Homo sapiens: one gene and its partners. The main gene of each other region encodes a partner of the protein of the gene in region 3 in a complex. Each region holds a gene or a part of one and is shown on either strand. Other genes may lie near its edges. A codon is read from its position in the direction of its gene.

Evidence for each region. The genes of interacting proteins can lie anywhere in the genome.
Region 1: the proteins of MORF4L1 (region 3) and HDAC2 are in contact, whole or in part, in a cryo-EM structure (PDB 8C60), measured with the Homo sapiens proteins. Residues at the interface, in NP_996670.1 of Homo sapiens: Pro355, Glu356, Arg359, Lys360; in NP_001518.3 of Homo sapiens: Gln93, Arg94, Asn96, Ser146, Glu147.
Region 2: the proteins of MORF4L1 (region 3) and PHF12 are in contact, whole or in part, in a cryo-EM structure (PDB 8BPA), measured with the Homo sapiens proteins. Residues at the interface, in NP_996670.1 of Homo sapiens: Glu201, Lys204, Pro205, Leu207, Val208, Asp209, Trp211, Asp212, Tyr251, Ala252, Glu255, Val256, Gly259, Ile260, Glu262, Tyr263, Val266, Met267, Thr270, Gln271, Leu272, Leu273, Tyr274, Lys275, Arg278, Pro279, Tyr281, Ala282, Leu285, Arg304; in NP_001028733.1 of Homo sapiens: Cys62 (codon at 1,625), Glu64 (codon at 1,619), Gln81 (codon at 1,568), Cys82 (codon at 1,565), Asn84, Pro86, Pro204, Leu206, Arg207, Arg208, Pro209, Phe210, Leu212, Leu213, Ile214, Ala216, Ala217, Arg220, Asn221, Pro222, Thr223, Gln224, Phe225, Gln226, Leu227, Pro228, Glu230, Leu231, Thr232, Thr330.

What each region holds. Positions count from the first base shown.
Region 1 is NC_000006.12:113,968,135-113,975,559, reverse strand, and holds the start of HDAC2 (histone deacetylase 2), read left to right. Parts: upstream 1-4,411; 5' UTR 4,412-4,651; coding exon 4,652-4,703; intron 4,704-4,830; exon of another isoform or gene 4,831-5,080; intron 5,081-5,281; exon of another isoform or gene 5,282-5,859; intron 5,860-6,900; exon of another isoform or gene 6,901-6,926; intron 6,927-7,425. UniProt on the Homo sapiens protein: Histone deacetylase that catalyzes the deacetylation of lysine residues on the N-terminal part of the core histones (H2A, H2B, H3 and H4).
Region 2 is NC_000017.11:28,948,505-28,956,446, forward strand, and holds the start of PHF12 (PHD finger protein 12), read right to left. Parts: upstream 3,015-7,942; 5' UTR 2,457-3,014; coding exon 2,391-2,456; intron 1,743-2,390; coding exon 1,561-1,742; intron 1-1,560. Other genes in the region: SEZ6 (seizure protein 6 homolog), read right to left, coding at 7,102-7,474, 7,846-7,942.
Region 3 is NC_000015.10:78,868,300-78,875,895, reverse strand, and holds the start of MORF4L1 (mortality factor 4-like protein 1), read right to left. Parts: upstream 3,007-7,596; 5' UTR 2,879-3,006; coding exon 2,839-2,878; exon of another isoform or gene 2,678-2,838; intron 1-2,677. UniProt on the Homo sapiens protein: Component of the NuA4 histone acetyltransferase (HAT) complex which is involved in transcriptional activation of select genes principally by acetylation of nucleosomal histones H4 and H2A.

The DNA.
Region 1 (7,425 bases), on a different chromosome or scaffold from region 3:
CTTACCACCTTTTCTAATTATCTGACTCCCATCGTTGGGACAACCAACCACAAAGTGCACACAAATGAGTCTGCCCTCTGGAAAGTTCCACCAAATAACTAAGGGTGGCCTTATTTCAGAGGGCTCCCCACAGTCATCTGAGGGCTATGTAGTCTATTCTGGGTTCCGTAAACAATCTGAAATTTTACCCTATTTGCAAGCTAACAAGCTAGTCAGCCACAGTTTCATCATGCTAGTATTAGACTCAAGACTCCTGTGTTAAGGGATAATTTATTACTCATGGCAATAGCAGTGACCAGAGCAACAGTATTAATTTTTGTGCTGCTGTTCTGAACCCCAATTCCCATATGCCAACATGAAGATGCCACATAATACTTGTACTGGCAATGGACTGCAGCATAGTGTAGTGTAGTGTAGTGTAGTGTAGTGTAGTGTAGTGTAGTGTAGTATAGTATAGTACAGTAAAGTACAGTATAGTACTTAGAGAACCTGATTTTTTTATAATGGGTAGTAATCATGCTTGTTCTTTGCTCCAGAAGGAGTCATTTTCTCTATCTTGGAACGCTGTTCACTACAAAAACATCACTGAAAAGATAGTTTCAGACAAAGCCAGCACCTCTGTTCTCAAGATATTCAGAAACCCAGAAAATTGTCTCCCAAGGGAAGCCTGTAGTTGGGAGAAATTATGAGAAACCACTAACTTCTAATTCAGATTTTGCATGAGTTAGGATTATATTCAGCTACATATAACAAAATCACAACTACAGTGGTTTACCTAAACGTGTTTTTTTGTTTGTTTCATTTTTTTTTCCCTGCATGTCACCAGAGTCCAGAAGTGCACAGTCCAGGTCTGGAACGGCTACATACAAGGTCATCAGGGACCCGGGTCCCTATCCGTCTGCTCCACTATTCTTGTCATGTGGCTTTCCACCCCATGGTCACAACATGCATACGCCACCTCCATCTGTACAGTTCTGGTGGTAGGTGGAGAAGAATGGTGACTAGATTTTAAGGAAGGTTAAAAACACTAGGATAGGAGGCCGGGTGCAGTGGCTCACGCCTGTAATTCCAGCACTTTGGGAGGCCAAGGCAGGCGATCACCACGTCAGGAGTTAGAGACTAGTCTGGTCAACATGGTGAAACCCCATCTCTACTAAAAATACAAAAATTAGCCTGGCGTGGTGGCGGGCGCCTGTAATCCTAGCTACTCCGGAGGCCTCAGCCTACTACTCCAGAGGCCTAGCTACTCCGGAGGCCTCCTGCGGAGGCAGGAGAATCGCTTGAACCCGGGAGGGGGAGGTTGCAGTGAGCCGAGATCGCACCATTGCACTCCAGCCTGGGCAACAAGGTCGAAACTCTGTCTTAAAAAAAAAAAAAAACCCAAAACACTAAGATAGGAAAGAGGAAGAATTAAGATATACATGTAAGGTGATCAGGAGACACTAACAAGTTAATTTTCTCAGATGCAGTGTGAGTATAAAAATTAGAAAATTTGAGCAAGTAGGTGGATTAGATCAAAGTGATACTGTGTTTTGAAGGTCATCAGCAAAGCATTAATCAGTTAATAATGTAACAGGAATGATTTGAAAGGTTTAGTGTAACAGTAATTGAGTAGATAAGCTATAGTTCAAAAATATATTTTTAATGTAAATGGGTAATTTGAAATTTTGTTACACAAATGCACAGTTCAAAAGTACTATAATCTCTCATTGTTAGATGTTGCTATTCAGGTTTATAAGTTATAGCTTGTAGTACTGTGTAAAGATAGGCACCATGCTTACAAGATCAGAATTCAGCTTGAGGCTGTGTGAGTTTACGACAACACTGTAGTGTGCCACTGTACTTCTCTACCTTCTGTATCGCCGTATGGAATTACTACACAAAATTAGCACTAAGAAACCTAAATTTCCTTACAGTAGAAATAAGCTTATATGAATAATTCTCTTATAGAAATTAAACTATCTGCTGCAGTTGTCAGCAGGGTTTAATTTTTAGCATAAGCTGAGGCCATCAGTTTCTTAGCAGTCCTATTCTTAAATAATCATTTCTGTTTAAGAGATCATTTTACTGAACAATTTCAAAGCACTAAATATCTTCGAGATTGAAAAAATAAGCACCTATAGATGGAGCAGAAACTAAAGAAGAACAATTTAAGGAAAAAGACAGTCCTTAACTATGCACGCATCCTATGAATTATCCATGCTTTCAGCTGGTTTCCTTTTACTGCACTGTCTAAAACTCCATATTTAAAAGGGTTTGATACAGCAGAGTTAGAATGTGGTCAATGAAATCTGGAGCTTGTCAATGGGTTTCAATAACTGATGCCACTTTTAGCTCTGCTAACATAGTAGAGATTATAGACAGAATTCTCTTGGCCAACTCCTATCATGGGATAAAACTCCTCCCACACCAGTTTCTAAAGGTAATGTAACTTGCTTCTATTGGTTTAAAATTATTAAATAATAAATACGTTTCTCAGCTAGTCAAAAGATATGTCCAGGCTCTTCTCACAAGTTCAATGTTAGGTGCTGTGGGTGCAAACAGTAATTTAGTAATTGTCACTGTTATTATAGTAATCCTAATAATCCCTTATTCACATAATTCTTCATTTTTTAAAAGTATTCCATATTAATTTTCTTATTTGAGATTCTGAATATTACTCTCCAAGTAATACTGCCCCATTTTACAGATAAGGCAATTCAAAAAACGTTTAAGTGACTTGCCCTAAGTCACAGGCACTAGAGAAACTATTACATGCAAGATAAACCTGGTCCCTTCATTTATGACACTCCATTCATAGTGGGACATTCAGACGAGTTGTGGGCAACTGCAACATGGTTAAGTGTTGAGCTACAGCATACAACGTACATGGCATGGAGAACAGTCTTGGCGGGAGAGGGGTCAGGGAAGTCTTCCCAAAAGAAACAAAGTGTCATTTCAGACTTCATTGTGTTGGCCCTGGGGAAGAACATTCACTTCTACTAAATTCACTTATTCTGTTCTCAGAATCTTCCAAGTTGATTTTGTACTTGATAGAGCACAACTTAGAAGGTCAATTAACTTTACCTCTAGGCCAGTGTTTCACTCACCGTAATTTCTCTAGCAACTTCATCAGTCACCTGGGGTCTTGTTAAAAATACAGAGGAGGGGGCGGAGGGAGGGCAGGGGCCACCCTGGACTTAACTTTTTCTAAATCTCTTGGGGGTGAGGTTGGGGAAAATTGCTGCTTTAAGCATGAACACTTTCGGGATTTTGAAGTCAAACAGCAAATTAAAAGGGGTATTTTTGGTAGTGGCTCTTAAATTCCAGCATCAATACAGCCTTTTTTTTTTTTTAATAGGGGTGTATTTGGGGGGTAGGGATAGCAATTTTATATAACTGGGATTGGGTGCTATAAAACAGGCTGTTAGCCTCCAGCCCTCACCTGCAAGGTGGCTGGCTTAAGGTAGGTACTTGATAAATGTGGATTTATTTAACAGAGGAACACTTGTATTCATAACCTCCAAGAGTTTCGAAAGTCTTTCTGCTCCAATCTTCCAGTGTCTAGCCAGCAGCATTGCTGCAGAGTGGAACAGCTAGGGTGCGTGGAGTTTGCAGAATGAGTTCAAACCTCCAGACTTATCAGTTAGCAGTAAGAACAAGTTCCTTAATCTGCCTCCACCTATAAAGAAGGAGTACAATTGCCACTTACCTCCTAGAGTTGTTGAGAGTCTTAAATGAGATTAAATATTATAAATAGATTATCAATGGAATATATTATAAATGCAAGTGCTTAGAACTGTACCTTATAAATGAGCTCCACAGATGCTTATTAAAACCCGAGCGGTGCCCTCTCCCCTTAACATCCGTAATAGGCCCCCTTACACCTCATACCCATTACGAGTCAAAATAATAATAATAATAATAAATAAGTGAACAAACGACAAACGAGAAAACTAGGCTACCAGGCACTGGGGCGATGGGCCACAGCCCGGCGGGGTAGTGGGCCCGGAAGGGGCGCGGGAGTGGGCTCTCCCCGCCGGGCTCGCGGCACGTGGTCGGCTTGGGCGGGAGCTTCGCGACAGTGGGGGAGGGGAGCAGCGTGGGACGCCGAGGAGGGGTCCAGACCGCCAAGGCTACGAGGCGCCGACTGCGCAGGCTCGGGGACAGGCGCAACCACTGCGCGCAGACCTGAGGGGGAGAACGTCCACCCGGCTGCACGCTCCCTGGATCTACTTGCGCAGCGAAAGCTTGTCTTCTTCCTCATTTTAACACTGTGTATGGCGCCGCCTTGCGCAGGTTGTTCACCCTAACAGGGCCTCTAACCTCGAGCCCGAAACGGCCTCCTTCTCCAGCCGTGCCCCTTCCTCCCCCGTGGAGGCCGCAGTGGATGCGCTCACCTCCCTGCGGCCTCCTGAGGTGGTTTGGTGGCCCCCTCCTCGCGAGTTGGTGCCGCTGCCACCTCCGATTCCGAGCTTTCGGCACCTCTGCCGGGTGGTACCGAGCCTTCCCGGCGCCCCCTCCTCTCCTCCCACCGGCCTGCCCTTCCCCGCGGGACTATCGCCCCCACGTTTCCCTCAGCCCTTTTCTCTCCCGGCCGAGCCGCGGCGGCAGCAGCAGCAGCAGCAGCAGCAGGAGGAGGAGCCCGGTGGCGGCGGTGGCCGGGGAGCCCATGGCGTACAGTCAAGGAGGCGGCAAAAAAAAAGTCTGCTACTACTACGACGGTGAGCGGCCGGGCCGGTGTCGGGGTGGGCGCGCGGGGCCGGGCGCTGGGTTCCGCGGCTGCCGTCGCGAGTGGGCGCCGGGGCTGAGGGGTGGGAAGGAGGAGGGACCGACATTTGGCCGCATCTTAACCCGTTCCCGGCCCGGCACAGTTAGAACGAGACCCTCTTCCTGGCGCAGCCCCCGCGGTTCCTGCGGGCGGGAATCAGGGGGCCCGCCCGTCTTGTCTCCTGCCTCTCCCCCTTCGGCCGTGCAGTCCGCAGCCTCGAAGGTGGCCGCCGCTGGGGACGGCGCCGGCCTACCCCGCCTTGGTGGTGGCGGCGGCGAAGGGGGCGGCCCATTCTCTCCCTTCTCCCGCCCACCATTCGTGGCAACGCAGGTTTGGGGTGCCCCGCGTCGGCCTCCTACCCCCTCGACCCGTCCCCCGCGAGGCAAAATTTCTATCCCGGCCTTGACTCTACACAAAGCCCCGCGGCCGCGAGAGCTCCGCCCCTCCCGTCCCCTTCCCTCCTCCTCGCCTGCTCGCCTCCCCTACCCTGCGTTCGGTCTGGCCGGAGCGTCTTCTCCTTCCTCGGCTTACCCTTTCCCCGGACCCCTCCTCCCGGTGGGCGCTGGAGAGTAGTTACTGAGGGTGGGGGCTCAGGTCGCGTGTGGCTTTATCACACCCATGTTTTGCGTGGGCTCCAACCCTCTCCTTTGTTCGCTGGGTTCTTTGAGCGCGTCTTTCTCAGGATTCAAATGGAAGGGCTTCACTTCCTCAATAATAGTTCGGGTTTTCCAGTTTCAGGCAGAAAGACTTCGTAGGAAATAAGAGGTGGTAGGGAGATGTGGAACTGCTACTGCTTGTGTTGTAGATCAGACTCCATGGGTCCTGGCTTGCCTCAGAGAGGTGGTTACCACCCACTTCTTTGTTGCTCTTTGTTCGATCAGGAAATAGACCCTGCTTTGGGGATTTAGAGAGCATTGGTATCTTGCAAAGGCTGTTCCTAGGTGGTGGGGAATCCTGGTATGGGAAAACTTTGAGAAGTGGGAGAAGTGCAGAAGTACTAAATATTCTAATGAGGTAAATTTGAGGTCACCGTGTAGTGAATTATAAAAGTCAGATAATTTAATTATCTTAAGCATTCTATAATTTGGAGTATGAGCAGTAACATTAAATCTTCGAATCCTGTTTCCTGTGTTTTCTTGCTCAATGGAGTAGTAACCTGTTATACAGATTTCACAAAGGCTTGGTAAATAGTTTATAGTAGGTTACTCTTGAGAGAAGGGATTCCAAAATTTAACAGAGAATCTATCCTAGGCTCCTTCTCCTGAAAGTCCTGTCTGATTTGTAGGAAGCAATACAAATTTTGGAAGCTGTTTCCTACATGTGGTGTATTGTAAATCACAAAATTTTAGAGAAGTAAGACCCCAGAGCACCAGCTCAGAATAAATCTACTTTAACTTGTAAATGACCGTACTGTCTCTTTTTAGTTAAAAAGGATTAATCTTTTAATGACTGATACATATAAAATAACCACCTGTGTCATTTGGGGAAAATCTGAAATCTTACAGAACAAATCTAAATTGATCTGCGATAGCTAGGACAGAATAATAACAGCCCTACTTTTAAAAATGATTTTTCAGAGGACTAGATATGCATTATATAAGTTGATTTGAAATTATGCCATCGTGGAGGGGTGGAGATGGAAATACATTTTAATTTCAACATGATTTACATTGCATATTTTGGGTTATTCTTGCCCTGCATTCCCTGATCAAATTGGAAAGGAAGTAACCCTGCGTATAAGTTAATTTGTAAAATTACATTGTTTCTAAAGTTTAGAGATTTATCCTTGTCAGGGCTTGGAGTAAAGAGGAAAATTTTGGTTAGGGAAAGTGGTACTGAGGTCCTTCTCGAAGCTGTCAGTTGGTGTTGGTAGTGATGGGCTCTGAGGAAGTAAGCTGCTTGTAATTTGTTGTCACCACAATGGAACCCTAGAACCAGGAGGGTACACTTGAGTAGCAGTTTCTGAACAGCGCTCTTGTCCTGGGCCCATTTATGATAACCTTCGTTGTGGGAATGGGAGCAGGCACGGGTACCCGGGAAAGGATGCAAGCTTGATAAGTAGGGTGGAAATATTTGTCTTGTGATTGTGACTTAATATGATACTTTATTGTAGCCCATTCACCTGCTTACGTGATGGCCAGCAACAAGTGAATAGCTGATAGTTTGGAAATCTCTGGTGGGTTATTTTGTCTTTTGTCTGTGACTCGTTTGTTAAAGTGGAGTTCCTAGTTGCTTATGTTTCACATACTCTTTTAATTTTTGTGGGAGGGAATTAAAATATTTTGCAGAGATTATTAATGTTTATATTATGCTAATTATTAATATGTGATAGTGTGCTGACCTCATCCAAAAACTTATATTTTTATTACCAGAGAACATTGTTTTGTCAGCTTACAAAAGTAGCAATACTAATTCTTTTTTTATTGTGAGAAGAGAATGCAAGGAAAGGAGCTTCTGTATCAAAGAATCGTGACTTTAAGGTATATAACATGGATTGGATTGGGAATGGGTTATATCTGTAGTAATAGGGTCTGAATTATCTGCTAGCCTAGGTTAGATGGTTTTAACTTCTTGGTAAAGGAAGTAGAAGGAAGAAAGTGAGTGAAAAAGAAAAGGACGGAAGTAGCAAATTCTATAACCATAGGAATCCTACCTTTAGGCTTCCTGGGGCTGTT
Region 2 (7,942 bases), on a different chromosome or scaffold from region 3:
TTTTTGTCCCAGCAATTTTACAAGCTGGGATGGGGTGCCCTCCTGGGCAAAAGTATCTTGGGAATGGTAATGGGAGTTTCCTACATAACTTCTGACCATAAACTTAATTTGCTCAGTATCAGTCATCTGTCTAATAAGTGTTCCCAAACCTGCAATTAGTACAAATATACAGTAGACACTACTCCACAAACCGAGAGATGGAACGTGAATGGAACTGTTGAGAGACCTTCGGTGAAATTTCACTTAAAACAAAATAAAAAGAGGGCTAAAAAAGGCAACATCAAACAACTGGTGGGAACACAGAACAGCCCCCTTTTCCTCTCTCCAGTCTGGCTCCTCTCTCAAACCCCTGCCTCAGTCAACTGTTGCAGAACAACAGAACGAGACCCAGTAGAACAAGACGAAATCTGGGTTTGCTGCCGCAGATGTGGGATTTTTGTGGAGGGCAGAGGTGATTTCGGCCGGCAGAAGATGGAGTTTAAACTCTTCTTTGCCGGATTGTCCTGGGCTGAGCCGCTGAGGAGGATCACGCAGCGGGCGATCAACTCAGGTCCCTCCCTCTCGGTTCGGTCTCTCCCCTCCTCTCATGTCCAGTAAGGGGGAAAAAGCGTACGGCTTTCCAGCTCTCAGCTCCTTAAAAATGCCTTTCTAGTGCCACCGCACACAATCCTCCCTCTGGCAGCAAAGAATTTTGCAGCGAAGGGCTCGCCGATCCGGAGCGGAGAAATGAAATCGGCGCCCAAGGGCAATTTTAATTGTCTAACCCGGCCCGATTTCCTAAGAGGCAGCGGCGCCGGGAGGGAGGAGGGAAGAGGGAGGAGGAAGGAAGGCAGCTCTGAGAGGCAACAGGGGGCAAGCGGAGGCAGAGAAAGGGGATCAAAGCGGCGAGATCCCAGACGGGGCCCCCGAGGAGCTTCTGCAGAAAGGACTCTGGGGCTGTCCCCACCGTTCCCCCGAGAGACGTTTGCAAATCATATATGCAGCCAAAATGGCGCTGAGAATAAAAATATAATTTAAAGGCAGGTCGCCATATTGTAAACAGAGAGGCAAAGAAGAGGCGGACTCGAGAGACACCCTCCACGATTTTTTCTACAGCCACAAGCGCCCGGTTGCCGGGGTCTGGACCAGGGCAACTCAGGTGGCCGAGGGCTCCACGCACCCACCCCGAGGAGATCCCGGCCGGGCAGGAGCCCCGAGGGCAGCGGGCGCGCGGGCAGGCAAGCGGCACTGGGCCCGGAGCTCCTCCCCTTCCTCCCCCGCCACTGCCGGCTGTCCCCGGCCGGCTCTGTCCCGGCTCCCCAGCGACTTCCAATCCCATATGGGGTTCTCTTCACTCGTCCCAACCCCCACCTCGGGGTCCGGACCCACCGCTGCTCCTCCCCGCTAAACTGCCAGAACCCGGCGGACACCTGGGGGCGGGGAGGTGCTCGCCCCGGCAGCTGCAGAAAGTCAGCTAGCGGCTGCAAGCGCCCGTTATTTCGGCAGTCAGGGGCAGGCCGGGTGAAGGAATGCGCAGAGAAGGGTCCGCCAAGAAGCTCCAAAAGGGTCCCCAGACCTTACCAGCACTGGAGGTGGAAGGCAGCCGGGCAGTGGTCGCAGCACAGGAGATCTCCACCTTCCTTGCAGCTATCGCAGCTGTCGTGGTTGGTGGCCCTGCCGCTTCTCCGGGGCTCCTTCTCAGGCTTCCGACTGCGCTTTTCTGCCTCGTCCGTCTTGGGGGGAGCCAGCAGAGCTTGGATTTGCTGCACACACATACAAACGGCGTGTGTGCACACTCGGAGCTCCCGGGCGGTCCGTCGCCCCCCCGGCGCGGTTTCTCCGTCACCCACCCCTCTCCCCCCTTTTGTCCTTCTTCCTCCCATCCAGGCTGCTCCCAGAATCTCTCAGCCCCCGGAACCAGGGGGAGCCCACCCTAACCGCGTTCCTGCAGCACAACAACGAGAACAGCTTCTTCCAAATGGGGAGGATCAAGGGTAGGGGGATGGGAAGAGGGTGCGCGGTTCCCTTCTTGCCACTTCCTTGTATGGACAGTGGGGGACTCCAAAGACCCGCTCGGGAGAGGCCCAAAGCCCGGTACCCGGACGTGCTGGGGGAAGCACAAAGGGGCCAACAAGAAGGGGGTGGGGAGGCCTGCCGGTGCAACGAGATGGAGTGGGCTGGCGCCTCGGGAGAGCGAATCGAGGGCGGCGGGTAGGTGAAACTGCTGCAAACGTCCTCGGAGGCTGAGCTCAGCCCCCTAAATTGCAAAGAGGGGAGGGAGAGGCTAGGTGAGGAAGAATCCCCCTCCCTCGGCCATCTAGGCGCTTCGAGTTTAGGACTGGCTTTGTGGGGCGGAGGGCGGAGGTTCCCTCCCGGCGCTGGAGGAAGGAGATGAGGAGGGCCACTCTTACCTCCATCAGCCCCCCTGATGTGTCCAAGTCGTACACGATCGTCTTGGTCTCCATTTTCTCCCACATTCATCCACCTCCCGGGCTGGGTGCTCTCTGCTCCGGCCCCCCCAACCCCGGGGGGAGGGGGGAGGTGAGGGGAGGGGGCGCTCCTGACCCCGGCCCCGCTTTTTTCCCAATACGGGTCCCGACTTCCTCGCCCTGGCTCCCCCCCACCCCCCGGCCCCCAGTCCCCGGGACGACAGCGTCCTCCCGACGGGCCGCGAGGGGGGAGCGGCCCCTCAGTCCCGGCCCGGCTGCTGGCTGCACAGTGGGTCCCGGCTCCGGGGGTCAGGCCTCGGCGGGGCCTAGTCCCACAGGCTAAAGCCGGCACTGGCGACAGCCGGTCCGGCCGGGAAGGCTGGCGGGCGCTGCCATCCCGGGGCTGGGGGTATCGGAGGGGGGGTGAGAGGTTACGTGAGGTTGTGGTACGTGAGGTGACTGGGGGGAGGGTGATGGGGGGTGGTCCCCGGGCTCCGCCTCTCGCCGCCGCCGCCGTCTGCGTCCCGGCTGCCGCGCACTTGGCGCAAACTTACCGCGAGCGCCCGCAAAGCCACCCGCGCAGGCGCCCCGGGATCGGCGCTCGCCGCGCGCAACCGCAGTGACAGCCGGCGGCCTGGCTCCCGCGCAGCCGCGGTGAGGGAGTACCCCCCAGCGCGCAGCCGCGCTGGCATTCGTCTGGAGGACCGAAGCCCCACCTTTCTGCCCTGCGCCAGCGCACTGAGACAAAAGGGCGGGACCTGAGGTCTCGCGCAGGCGCTTGAGAAAGCTTGTAGGGGTCAAGGCGCAGCCGCAGGAAGCTAGGGACTGTTCATCCATTGGTGTTTGTGTGCAAACTAAGACGACTCTGTTCTGCGCAGGCGTGTTGGGGGTGCTCCCCCTTCCTCTCCATAACACAGACGCCTCCCGCGCAGGCGTATTGCCTTCCGCAGGCCCTCACAAGAAAGCTGCTCCTTTCGCCATTTTGGTAATGGGATATGGGCTATCATGCCCTTGGAGTCCTCAGGCATGAACAGAAAGGAGCAAGGTGTGGTGTTGGATGGAGCTGGTCGCCTGTCGGTGACAGCAGTATTCCTAGGGATGTTGTACTTGACCGTTTGGTTCTACCATCGGGTGTGGCTGGACCAGGCCACCATATTGGTAAAGAGAAAAGCCATTTGAGACAGAAAATGACGCTTTTGGAGGCGTGTGGGATGACTGTGGTTCCTAATTCTCTCCCGCTCCTGACAGATAATTTTATCAGTTAATTGTATCCTCAGCATCCCTGCCTTGCGTGGTGGTGGCACTGGAGAGTTCCGCCTGCCCGTTACCACCCTCTCTTCACCACTGTCCCTGAGATCTGCTCTTCAAGAGGAAGCCTAAAGTGGAGAGTTTGTAATCCTGACAACGCCCAGCTACCTGCGTACCCCGGACTCCAACTCCCAGTTTGCAACGCCAAAGGGTCTAAAGGGCGAACGGGGGCGCATTGCATCCTGGGAGCAAGAATCGCGATAGGTCTGATGGATTGTGGGAACTGTAGTTCCATGTGCGTGCGATGCACTCTATGGTAGGATAGACCCGGGGAAGAGTCATTTGCCGGCCAGGAAGGGATACTTTTGAGAGCGTCAGTGCTGCATGCCGGGATTTGTAGTCTGAGGGCCCGCCTCGCATTCTGGGCGGGGATTCATGCTCCTTTTCAGGGCGCCCGCTCCTCCCCTTGGTATTGCCGTCAGAGATGGGCGGTTGGTTATTGCTGCCTGATGGTGGATGAAGCAGTGGAAAAGAGAATTGTATCGTTGTGCTTGACACTAGGGGTTTAGTTGGAATTGTTGCTTCGTAGCTGTGCTCGGCCCACTTTTAATGTTAAGGGACACAGCATTCTCAGAGTCGTCAAACTAGCAAGGGTTTAGAGACCATCTGATTTAATCCCCTCTTTTCCAGATGCACAGGGAGGCGCAGTGATTTGCCTAGGTCACATAGTGCATTTATGGCAGACCTAAGAATTGGATTTCTTGATTCTCAAGCCAGACACTGTCCATTACACTATGTCGACTGTGTCTAAGGAATTACTATGCTTGCTTTGGGGACAGTAAGGAGGATGAGTTAGACAGAGTGGGGATGTCAGTGTATGGAGTCTTAGGTTTCTGTTTTCCTGACTTTTCGCTTTTCTGATGACCCTCTTGGTGCCTGGAAAGAATGATAAGGTCATGGATGGTGGGGTGGAGAATGTCATGTGAATTGGCTGCCCTCTGCTTTCTACCATTCTGAGCCAACAATAAACTTCAGGAGCTGTGGACCAGAGATGTGGCCATCAGAGAGGGGAGGGCTGAGCTAGATTGTTTGTATGAAAGAGGCAAGATTTTCTATCTCCTATGGCTATATTTTATGTCACAGGCTCTCAGAGTTTAGAACCTCATGTGCCCTCTCTCTTTGGCTTTTTTTCCTACTGCTCAGGGCCCAGCTGTGCTGCTGTGTTAACCTGGAGGCATTATGGAACAGGTAAGTAAGCCATTGGCATCCATCCACTGGACAAGGCTTTGCTTTGATCAACACCATCAATTGCAGCTGATAATAGGAACTATGGGCTAATGAGGGAAATAAGACTTGGCTCTGTTGACAAGAGCCAGGGAAACTTCACACCTCTTCCTCTTGGAACTTGCAGGATGAGGTTAGGCCAGTGGGGCCAAGGAATGCTCCCACCTTGGAGAGCTCCCGCCCTGACAGTTGAGGGGGGATTGAGGGGCGAGCAGGTGGGATACAGACGCCTTTGGAAGTGACCTCTTGTGGCTAATCTAGGCACTGCACTCTGCATGGACAAGAGCTTCTCCATCCTTCAAGGTGGCTTGTGCTAGAGCCAGGGGTAGGCAGCATGAGTGGTCAAGACTTCCCTTTTGGAAGACTGTAGAAGCAGAAGGTGCTGGTTGCTGCTATTATTTCTTTCATGGATTTTTCTCTACTGGTTTCTGAGCTCCCATAATTTCCTGTTGCCTGCCTCTTGCTGTCACTCTTGGAGAGCAGCAATGCAGGGCACACCTCTCAGCATGGAATGTGCATACTGGGGGCCAACGCTGGGCACTTTCCATCTTTGTAGGTGCTGGGGCCCATAGGGAAGGGGCAAACTTGAGCACATCCTCCCAGCCACCTTTTTCCAGAGCCCATGGTTAGGGCCTTTGCCTAACTTAGGATCCAAGCCCGTAAGCTGCATTACCACTGCTCCTGACAATCTAAGGGTTTTGTAAGGCCAAGCCAGATTAGGGCTTCATGTTTTGGGGATCAGTCTCTGTTTCCTATTCTAATTTCCCAAGCCTTGCTTACTTAGAAATAAGGGGAAGGAGAGATGCATCAGACTTCCTGAGCCTAGTTAGCATTGAGAAGGGCATCAGTGGCGTTGAGAAGGGATTTGGGAGTGTGCCAGCCTGTAGTTCTGGACCTGGCAAAGAGGAGGAAATAAGGCATTGGGTGGATGTGCAGTGGGGTTCCTGGGCTCCCACATCCCTGTAACATCAGCCATTGGGGCCTCTGATTTTGCCTGCTATCTGTTGCACTGTCCCTTTTGGTACAGGGGACCCTGTTCAACTGCATGCAATAATTTCTTTTAAAATAAAATCTGAGCACTTTGGGTGGCTGAGGTGGGAGGATCACTTGAGCCCAGGAGTTGGAGACCAGCCTGGGCAACATAGTAAGACCCCATCTCTACAATAATTTTTTTTTAAATTAGCCATGTGTGGTGGCCTGCATCTATAGTCTTAACTATTCAGGAGGCTGAGGTGGATCACTTGAGCCTTGGAGGTTGAGGCTGCAGTGAACCGTGATCCAGTCACTGCATTCCACCCTGGTTGACAGAGTGAGACCCTATCTCAAAAACAGTAGTAATAAAATAAAATCTGAAGATGATTGATTGGTGGGTCTAGCATGCCTTCTGGTCCTGAAGTCCATATCCCATTTATCTCCCACCTCCCGTCCCTCCAAGAAAGCATCATTCACCTGGCCATTGCTTTTTTTTTTTTTTTTTTTTTTTTTTCCAAAAACACCATTTTAATAAGGAAACAACAGAAATAAAAGATTGTTCTCTGGCTGGAGCCCAGACCCCATATAATACATTACATGTACAAAGTGGCTTTCAGCCAGCTCCTGGGCGTCTCCCTGGGGCTCTCCTACCACCTGTTCCATGCCAAATTCCTGGGTCCTTGGACCTCTGCTCCTCTCCAGAATATGCCCACCCCCTCCCCTTATCCCATAACACAGTGGTCAAGAGGAGAGCCTGACAAGTGGCTGGAATTGGAGGAGGGACTATTAGGGTGAAGATGTTTGCAACAGCTAAATAAACATCGGAGGAAAGTCTCCCTTTCCTCAGGGTATAGGGTGGTCAGTGGAAAATGGCGTGTCCTGCTTTGGTGTGGAGCATGAGTGCCCAGGGAAGCCCAACCTGAGGTGGGGGTAGGGTCCCCCTGAACCCCTTAGGATCTCCTAGAATTACTGCCTCCACTGGGACAGGGCAGGAGGCAGAACTGTCCAGAACTTTAGAGAACTAGAGACCTCCCAAGAGGCTGATGTTGGCATGCCAGGACTACCCAGAGGTCACCGTTGAGAGGAGTTTTGGCCATTGGTGATGGCGCTGTGAGGAGTACCCTGGTGCAGTTCCCACCATGGTCAAGTTAATCCTGCTGCAGGTTGCCATGCCAGGGCGGGATGGTGGTCATGTGGAGAAAGGTACTCCTGCTCTGCTAGTGTGTTCCAGGCTGGTCCAGGGCATGAGGAGGCTCAGGATGCTGGCTGTTGATGCTTGTGCTCCAGCTATGTTCTTCCCACAGGTAGATGCCCCCTGACATGGGCCCAATGAAGGGCCCCAAGTGGGCAATGACACCAAGAAAATAGGCCATGGTGGGCATCGCAGGCGGGGAAGGGCACAACTTCTTGAGGGCTTGGTGGCATCTCCTCCTAGGTGGTATATACAGGAGGTGGAGGGACAGCAGGAAGCAAGGAGCCTTGCTGCTGGACTGTGGTGCAAGTCTGAGTTGACTTCCCTAGACTGCCCCCACCTAGATGGAGACTTCATATTCTCTCGTCTCCTGCAAAGGAAAGAGACTGCTGGGAGTTGGAAACTTGTATTAGGTTTGCCAGGCCATAATTCACCTTCCCTAGGAAAAGGGAAAAAGTGAGAGGGCTTGGCAGGACCCTCAGGGTTATCTGCCCAAAGAAGCAAAGAACTGGGTCTTGGATAGGGTGGCAAGGCTGGCATGGTTACTTACTCCAGTCTCGTAAGTTGGATTGTCAAACGCTGACTCTATGGTAATGCGGTTGTAGGGGCGGGGGCGGGGGCGGGGCAGCTGCAGGGAGCTTTTTCCCTGGAGCCTGTGGGGCAGAGAAGCCTGCAAGTCAGGAGCACTGGGTAGGAGTGAGGTATGCAGGTATGCAGAGCAGAAAGAGAAGCCAGACTCACCTGGAGAAGTAGAAGTATACACCTCCTACCAACAACACCATCGCCACCAGTGGCAAGAAGATGGCAGCTGCAATGTGGGCAGCATCCAGGGTGCTGG
Region 3 (7,596 bases):
TACATAAACTCTACAGTGTTTCAAGACGATTCTGTTAGCACTCATCAAATATTCTTTTTCCCTTGCAAGATATTCTCCGATCATCTAATTAATAAATTTTTTTTTTTTTTGAAATGGAGTCTCACTCTGTGGCCCAGGCTGGAGTGCGATGGCAGGATCTCGGCCTACTGCAACCTCCGACTCCCGGGTTCAAGCGATTTCCTGTCTCAGCCGCCCGAGTAGCCGGGATTACAGGAGCCTAACACCACGCCCTGCTAATTTTTGTATTTTTAGTAGAGACTGGGTTTCACCAGGCTCACCAGGCTGACCAGGCTGGTCTCGAACCGCTGACCTCAGGTGATCCACCGCCCCCACCCACCTCGGCCTCCCAAAGTGCTGGGATTAGAGGCGTGAGCCACCGTGCCCCACCCACTAAAATCATTTTTAAAACGTGGTTACACAATTCCATTTTAAACACAAGTACAAAACACACCTGGAAAGTAATGTTAAATACAGACTCTCTTACACAGCTTTCAAACCCTTACCTGGGGATACCTTGGTTCCTACTCTTCTCCAATTACCCCACTTAAAACGGCACAAGGAAATCTCTGCTGCTACTCCTCTCTTAACTAGCAACCCTCTAGAACTAAAGCGCTTCTTCCAGAACAGCCATCCTTAGGTTGTTCCCACAGCAGCGATTAACTTTTTGTGCCTTGACAGTCTGATAAACCCTACGAGCCTAATAGTTTCATAAATACATAAAACACACACTAGTACAAAGGAAACCAACTGTACTGAAACAAAACACTTTAAATGTCACGTTCTATGACATTACAGGACAAACAAGACTTGGCTGCTAATACAATAACTACCCTAATTTTGAAGAAATAAGAATGCGATAACTGAAAACATCTTCCATAACTGTAATGTTGAGATATGAAAATATACTGAAAATGCTAATGTGGTGGTTTTTTTCGGGGTTTAGGGGGAGCAATTACACTGTTAATTGAAATACTAAACTTGGGAGATAGAAAAAAAAATCTTCCTCAATTTCACGCACCGTCTCAATTAATGCACTGACTCTAGATTAAGAATATCTGCTCTAAAATGTCTAGTAAAATAATGAACCCATAGGAGGTAGAGTCAACAGCTTCTCAAGGTGAGAGAGGGGTATTAAAAGTCACACGGCCGAGAGCGATGCCTCACGCCCGTTAACCCCCCACAACTTTGGGAGGCCGAGGCGGGTGGATCGCTCAAGCCCAGGAGTTCGAGACCAGCCTGGGCAACATGAAACCCCGTCTCTACCAAAAATACAAAAAAAAAAAAAAAAAAAGAAAGAAAAAGAAAAGAAAAAACAAAAACCCTAAAAAACAAAACAGAACAAAACAAAACTTAGCCGGACGTGATGGCGCGCGTCTGTGATCCCAGCTACTTGGGAGGCTCGCTTTAGCCCGGGTGGGGGGCAGAGGTGAGCCGAGATAGCGTCACTGCACTACAGCCTGGGTGACAAACATCGTCTCAAAAATACAAACAAAAAAAGTCACTCATTAACAAAATACCCCTAAAACCTCCTTAAATATTCCATAAACTTAAAATACGCAGTACTACGGTTTGAGGTTTACGGCTCTAAAAGGAATTCTAATGCAAGTCTAAAAACCCCTAGAACAAAAATCGTACGCATGTAGACATCGTATTTACGGTAACTAGCATAAATTTCCATAGCAATGAAAAGGAATGTTAAAGTGTTCCTCCTTTCTCAACAGGACTTTACTTCCTTTTTAGCTATTAGACCTCCACCTTATTATACGTTAACTGAAGCGTTGTGAAAATTTAAAGAGCTGCCTTCCACTGGGAGTCAGTCTAACCTTACCCAAAACTCATGTCAATCGAAAACCAATTAATAAAAAGAAATTCAACTTTCAAGTCATTGTTAAACACTGCAACTAATCAAACAATTACTGCATTTAAAAAATGACGTCGAGGCAATGGGACTTACAAATGCAAACGGCGTCAACACTGCATTCAGATCATTTTTATTTACTTTTTACGAGCAACTGCAAAGCGAGAGCTCACTCACATTACCATAGGATCTCGGCACTGCGCCCAAGAATAGCAGAGTGATGCCTCCAGGCAACACAAAGCGGAGGAAAACGCTCATCTCACTTTTTTTTTTCTGTCCCCACCCACCACTCTGTGGTATGCGGAGGGCCCCGGCAACCTTCTGGTCGTCGTGGAAGGGGGCGCTGCATCTGCCCGTAAGCTGTGCCTCCATACGGGACCGAGACGCCGGCGGCCATGATGGCGCCGCCATCTTGCAACGGCCATTTTACAACGCACTTCTCCCGCCCCGTGGCGCCAAACCCACCCCCATCCGCAGCTGAGTTGCCACCGAACGCAACCACCCCGGGGCTCCAGGAAGCACCGAAAAACCCGTCGTAGCTGCCCAAGCGGCCGGGCGCGCCGCAGGACCGCCCGAAACAGCCACCGCCCCTCCCCCCCCGCCGCCACATCACTTCCCCTAACCGCCGCCATGGCGCTCCCGTCGCCTCCCTACAATAGGCTGCTCTCTCCGCGCCCTCTTCCTCAGAACAATAACAAACACTTGACGAGGGTGTGCCACGCGCCAAACGCTCTCTCTCCCACTCTAACGCCTGCGCAGCACTCTCGCTTCACAAAGCGCTTTCTCACAATGACGCACCGGAATTGCCATCCGCAATGCGCTTTCCCCGCACAAAGCACTGACCGCCGCCTTCTCAGGGCGCAGCCCGCGCCGCCCCCGGCCCTCAAGCCTCAATCACCTCGAGCCCGCCTCTATCTCCTGCGCCGTTAGGTGCCTTTTTCCCAAAGGCGCACACTCACCCTCCTGGAATTTAGGCTTCGGGTCCTGCTTCGGCGCCATTTATAAGTGATTCGCCGCCTCCTCCTTCTCCCACCACCCCCGACTACCGCCCCCTACTCTCTACCCCACCCAACTCCGCGTCAGACGCGCCGTCAGGCACTGCCAGCTCTACATCCTGGGCCGGATTTGCCAGCGCCCGCAGACCTCACAGCACCGCGACCCGCGCAGCCGCTGCTCCAGCCAACGACAGCCCGCCGCGCACGCGCCCCTGCGCCCGCGCCGCCCCAGGGCACGCCGGGACTGGTAGTTCGGAGTCGGTGGAGGCGCCCCCCCCCCCCCCCCGGGTGGGGGAGGGGCCGGCTACCCTACCCCACCCCACCCCCGCTTCTCTCTCCATGCCCCCGGCTGCTGCGGGTTGGTAAAGCGGGGATTTGATTTCGTGGGAGGTTAAGGCGGAGCTGGCGATGGGGGAGAGTGGGGGTGGTGAGCCACCAGTGATAATAGAATGGGAAAGGCCCAGTTGCGACGTCCCTTGGGCAAATAAGCCCCCGTTGATGTTGAAGTAGTCGGAGAGAATAGGGCTGGCTCGGAAACCTACATTCAATAGCATTCCGCTAGTTTTTGCATAGAAAGGCTTTAGGATCAGCAAGAGGGTGGGAACTGGGGTCCGCTTCTGGAAGCTTCGTTGTTTAGCAACCCCACTGCGGAGCCTATTTGGTGGGATTGATAGCCATTTGTTGGCTCCTAGGTCTACCTCCTCTTCTCCAGCCCAGCCTTGCGGAAATGAGGATGATGACGTGGGAAACACTAGTCACGCTTTAGCTTTTTGAGATAATGGAGCTCTGCTTTCTGAAAAAGGCTAGTGTGAATATGTCAACGTCTGTATTCCGTACCTGCCCTGTTTGTGCTTCTTGTCACTCTAAACAAACGGATTTCTTCAATATTATACCTTTTTTTTTTTTTCTGAGATGGAGTGTCGCTCCGTTGCCCAGACTGGAGTGCAGTGGCGCGATCTCTGCTTACTGCAGCCTTCGCCTCCCAGGTTCAATCGATTCTCCTGCCTCAGCCTCCGGAGTAGCTGGGATTACAGGCATGTGCCACCACGCCCAGCTAATTTTTGTATTTTTAGTAGATACTGGGTTTCACCATGTTGGCCAGGCTGGTCTGGAACTCCTGACCTCGTGATCCGCCCGGTTTGGCCTTCCAAAGTTCTGGGATTACAGGCGTGAGCCACCGTGCCTGGCCTAAACAAACGGATTTATGTCGTTCCCTGTTCAAAAACAACTTTGTTGGCTAAGCTGCAAAATAGCACCATTTCCGTCAGTTTATTGTGAGAATTACATATACGGGCTTAGCGCGGTACCCAACAATGAATAAGTGCTCAATGAACTTTAGACGATAAATCTCAAAGTCCTTAGCCTGGTATTTAAATCCTTCCACAAACAGCCCTTAGCCTACCTGCATCCCCTATGTAAACCTTTATCCTCCTACGCAAACCTTTGTCTCCATGACTTTTCTTTTTTTTTTTTTTCTTTCTGAGACGGAGTTTCCCTCTTATTAACCAGGCTGTAGTGCAAAGGCGCGATCTCAGCTCACTGCAACCTCTGCCTCCCAGGTTCAAGCGATTCTCCTGCCTCAGCCTCCCGAGTAGCTGGGATTACAGGCATGTGACACCACACCGGGCTAATTTTTGTGTTTTTGTAGAGATGGGGTTTCTTCATGTTAGTCAGGCTGGTCTTGAACTCCCGACCTTAGGTGACCCGCTGGCCTCGGCCTCCCAGAGTGCTGGGATTACAGGCGTGAGCCACTGCGCCCAGCCTGTCTCCATGGCTTTTCTAAGCCCTCCCCTGCCCGGGTTCCACACCCCACCAATTCCGGGCCCCTCTCCATTTATCTGACTTCCATTTCTCCTTCAGTCTTTTTAACACAACCCCTTCTCTGACAACAGAAACCCACAAAAACCTTCCTTATTCCAGTTGAATATACACCATCTTGTCACGACTACTTCTCGCAAGCTTGTCCAACCTGTCTTATTTTGTTGTTGTTTTGTTTTGTTTTGTTTAGGCTTTTAGCACCCTGAAGCCATGGTTTTTAGTTTCAGTCTCTAGTGATAAGTGGAAAAGGGGGATGAGGAAGGGGCTTTACTGGCCCAACCAGAAACAGAAACTAAGAACCCATGACTGTATTCACTCCCTTGGACACCATTGCTAAATTGTAAAAAGGGACAAGGGCTTCTTTGGACCCCACCCCACCAAAACTGTCCTGTACACTTTTAAATTTTTTATTGAATATAAAATACGTACTTTTTTTAAATTATTTTTTTGAGACAGTCTCGCTCCGTAGCCAGGCTGGAGTGCAGTGGCACAGTCTCAGCTCACTGCAACCTCTGCCTCTTGGGTTCAAGCGATTCCCCTGCCTCAGCCTCCTGAGTTGCTGGGACTCGGTGTGCCATCACGCCCAGCTACTTTTTTGTATCTTAGTGGAGATGGGGTTTCACCATGTTGGCCAGGATGGTCTCGATCTCCTGACCTTATGATCCTCCTGCCTTGGCCTACCAAAGTGCTGGGATTACAGGCATGAGCCACTGCGCCCAGCCAATTTTTTGTTGTTGTTGTTGTTATGAGACCAAGTCTCACTCTGTCACCCAGGCTAGAGTGCAGTGGTGCAGTCTCAGCTCACTGCAGCCTCCACCTCCTAGATTGAAGCGATTCTTCTGCCTCAGCCTCCCAAGTAGCTGGGTTTACAGGCGCATACCACTATGGCCGGCTAATTTTTGTATATTTAGTAGGGATGGGGTTTCACCATGTTGGCCAGGCTGTTCTCGAACTCCTGACCTCAGGTGATCCACCCGCCTCGGCCTCTCAAAGTGCTGGGATTACAGACGTGAGCCACTGCGCCCAGCCTGCACATACTTTTTTAATCCAAACGTTTAAAAATACAAAAATGAAAATAGTGGGCCGGGCGCGGTGGCTCACGCCTGTAATCCCAGCACTTTGGGAAGCCAAGGCAGGCGGATCACGAGGTCAGGAGATCAAGACCATCCTGGCTAACACGGTGAAACTCCATCTCTACTAAAAATATAAAAAATTAGCTGGGCGTGGTGGTGGGCGCCTGTAGTCCCAGCTACTCAGGAGGCTGAGGCAGGAGCATGGCATGAACCCAAGAGGCGGAGCTTGCAGTAAGCCGAGATTACGCCACTGCACTCCAGCCTGGGCGACAGAGTGAGGCTCCATCTCAAAAAAAAAAAAAAAAAGAAAATAGTGAAAGTCTCTTTCCCACCTCCACCCCTCATCTGCCCAGTTCCCCCACTGTTATGAGTTGTTTGGGAATCCATGAGTTTTTTTATCCTAGAACCCTCTTTGTGTTATTTCTTCTTTTGTATTGAAGTTAACTTATTTGCCTTTATGTGTTAATTACACAGGTAATATTCAAATATTTGGGCTCATGATGCAACAATTGAGAAATATAAAATACAGGGCAAAACTTAAGGAACATGTTTATTCCCCGCTCCCCCCATTTACCTTCCCACCATTTGGCGTGTGCATTTTTCTCCATTTTTTTTTTTTAACCATAAATGGTCTGTACATATTGTTCAGTTGCATTCTTTTTTTTTTTTTTTTTTGAGACGGAGTCTCGCTCTTTCGCCAGGCTGGAGTGCAGTGGTGAGATCTCGGCTCACTGCAACCTCCGCCTCCCGGATTCCAGCGATTCTCCTGCCTCAGCCTCCTAAGTAGCTGGGATTACAGACGCCCGCCACCATGCCCGGCTAAGTTTTGTATTTTTAGTAGAGACAGGGTTTCACCAAGTTGGCCAGGATGGTCTCGATCTCTTGACCTTGTGATCCGCCCGCCTCAACCTCCCAAAGTGCTGGGATTACAGGCGTGAGCCACCACGCCCGGCCCAGTTGTATTCTTTTTTAACATAATAATATATCTTGGAGATTGTTCAAATTACATACAGGCCTATCTCACCTTTTTTTTTTTTTTTTTTTTGAAACAGCGTCTTGTTCTGTCTCCCAGGCTGGAGCACAGTGGCATGATCATGGCTCACTGCAGCTTGCAGCTCCTGGGTTCAAGTGATCCTCCTGCCTCAGCCTCCCCAGTAGCTGGGACTACAGGTGGATGCCACCACACCCAACTAATACTTTTATTTTTGCAGAGATGTGCTCTCGCTATGTTGACTGGGCTGGTTTCCAACTCGTAGCCTCAAGTAATCCTTCCACCTCTGCCTCCCAAAGTGGTGGGATTACAAACATGAGTCCCTCACATTTTCAATAGCTTTCGACATACCATAGTATAAATATTTCAAGATTTATCTAATCTTTGTGCACATTGCTTTTTCTTTTCTTTTTTTTTTTTAAGAGACAGGGTCTCACTATGTTGTCCAGGGTAGCGTGTCAACACAGCCAGGCTATGTTGTCCTGGCTAGAGTGTCCAGCCTGGAATCCTAGGCTCAAGCAATCCTCACGCCTCAGCTTCCAGAGTAGCTGGGAATACAGATCACGCCACCATGCCTGCCTTCTGCACTTTGCTTTTATTTTTTCAGGACCCAAGAAGTAGAATTACTAGGTCAAAGAATGTGGGCATTTTAAATTGCCTTGTGAAAGGTTTCATCATTTTACATTTCAACTAGCAATTTAAGAAAAGGCTTGTTTTTCCACATTCTTGACAAACATGGCATCATGGAGTCTCTGAAAACTGGTGTTTGTTTTTTTTGAGATGGAGTCTCACCCTGTCGCCCAGGCTGGAGTGCAGTGGCACGATCTTGGCTCACCGCAA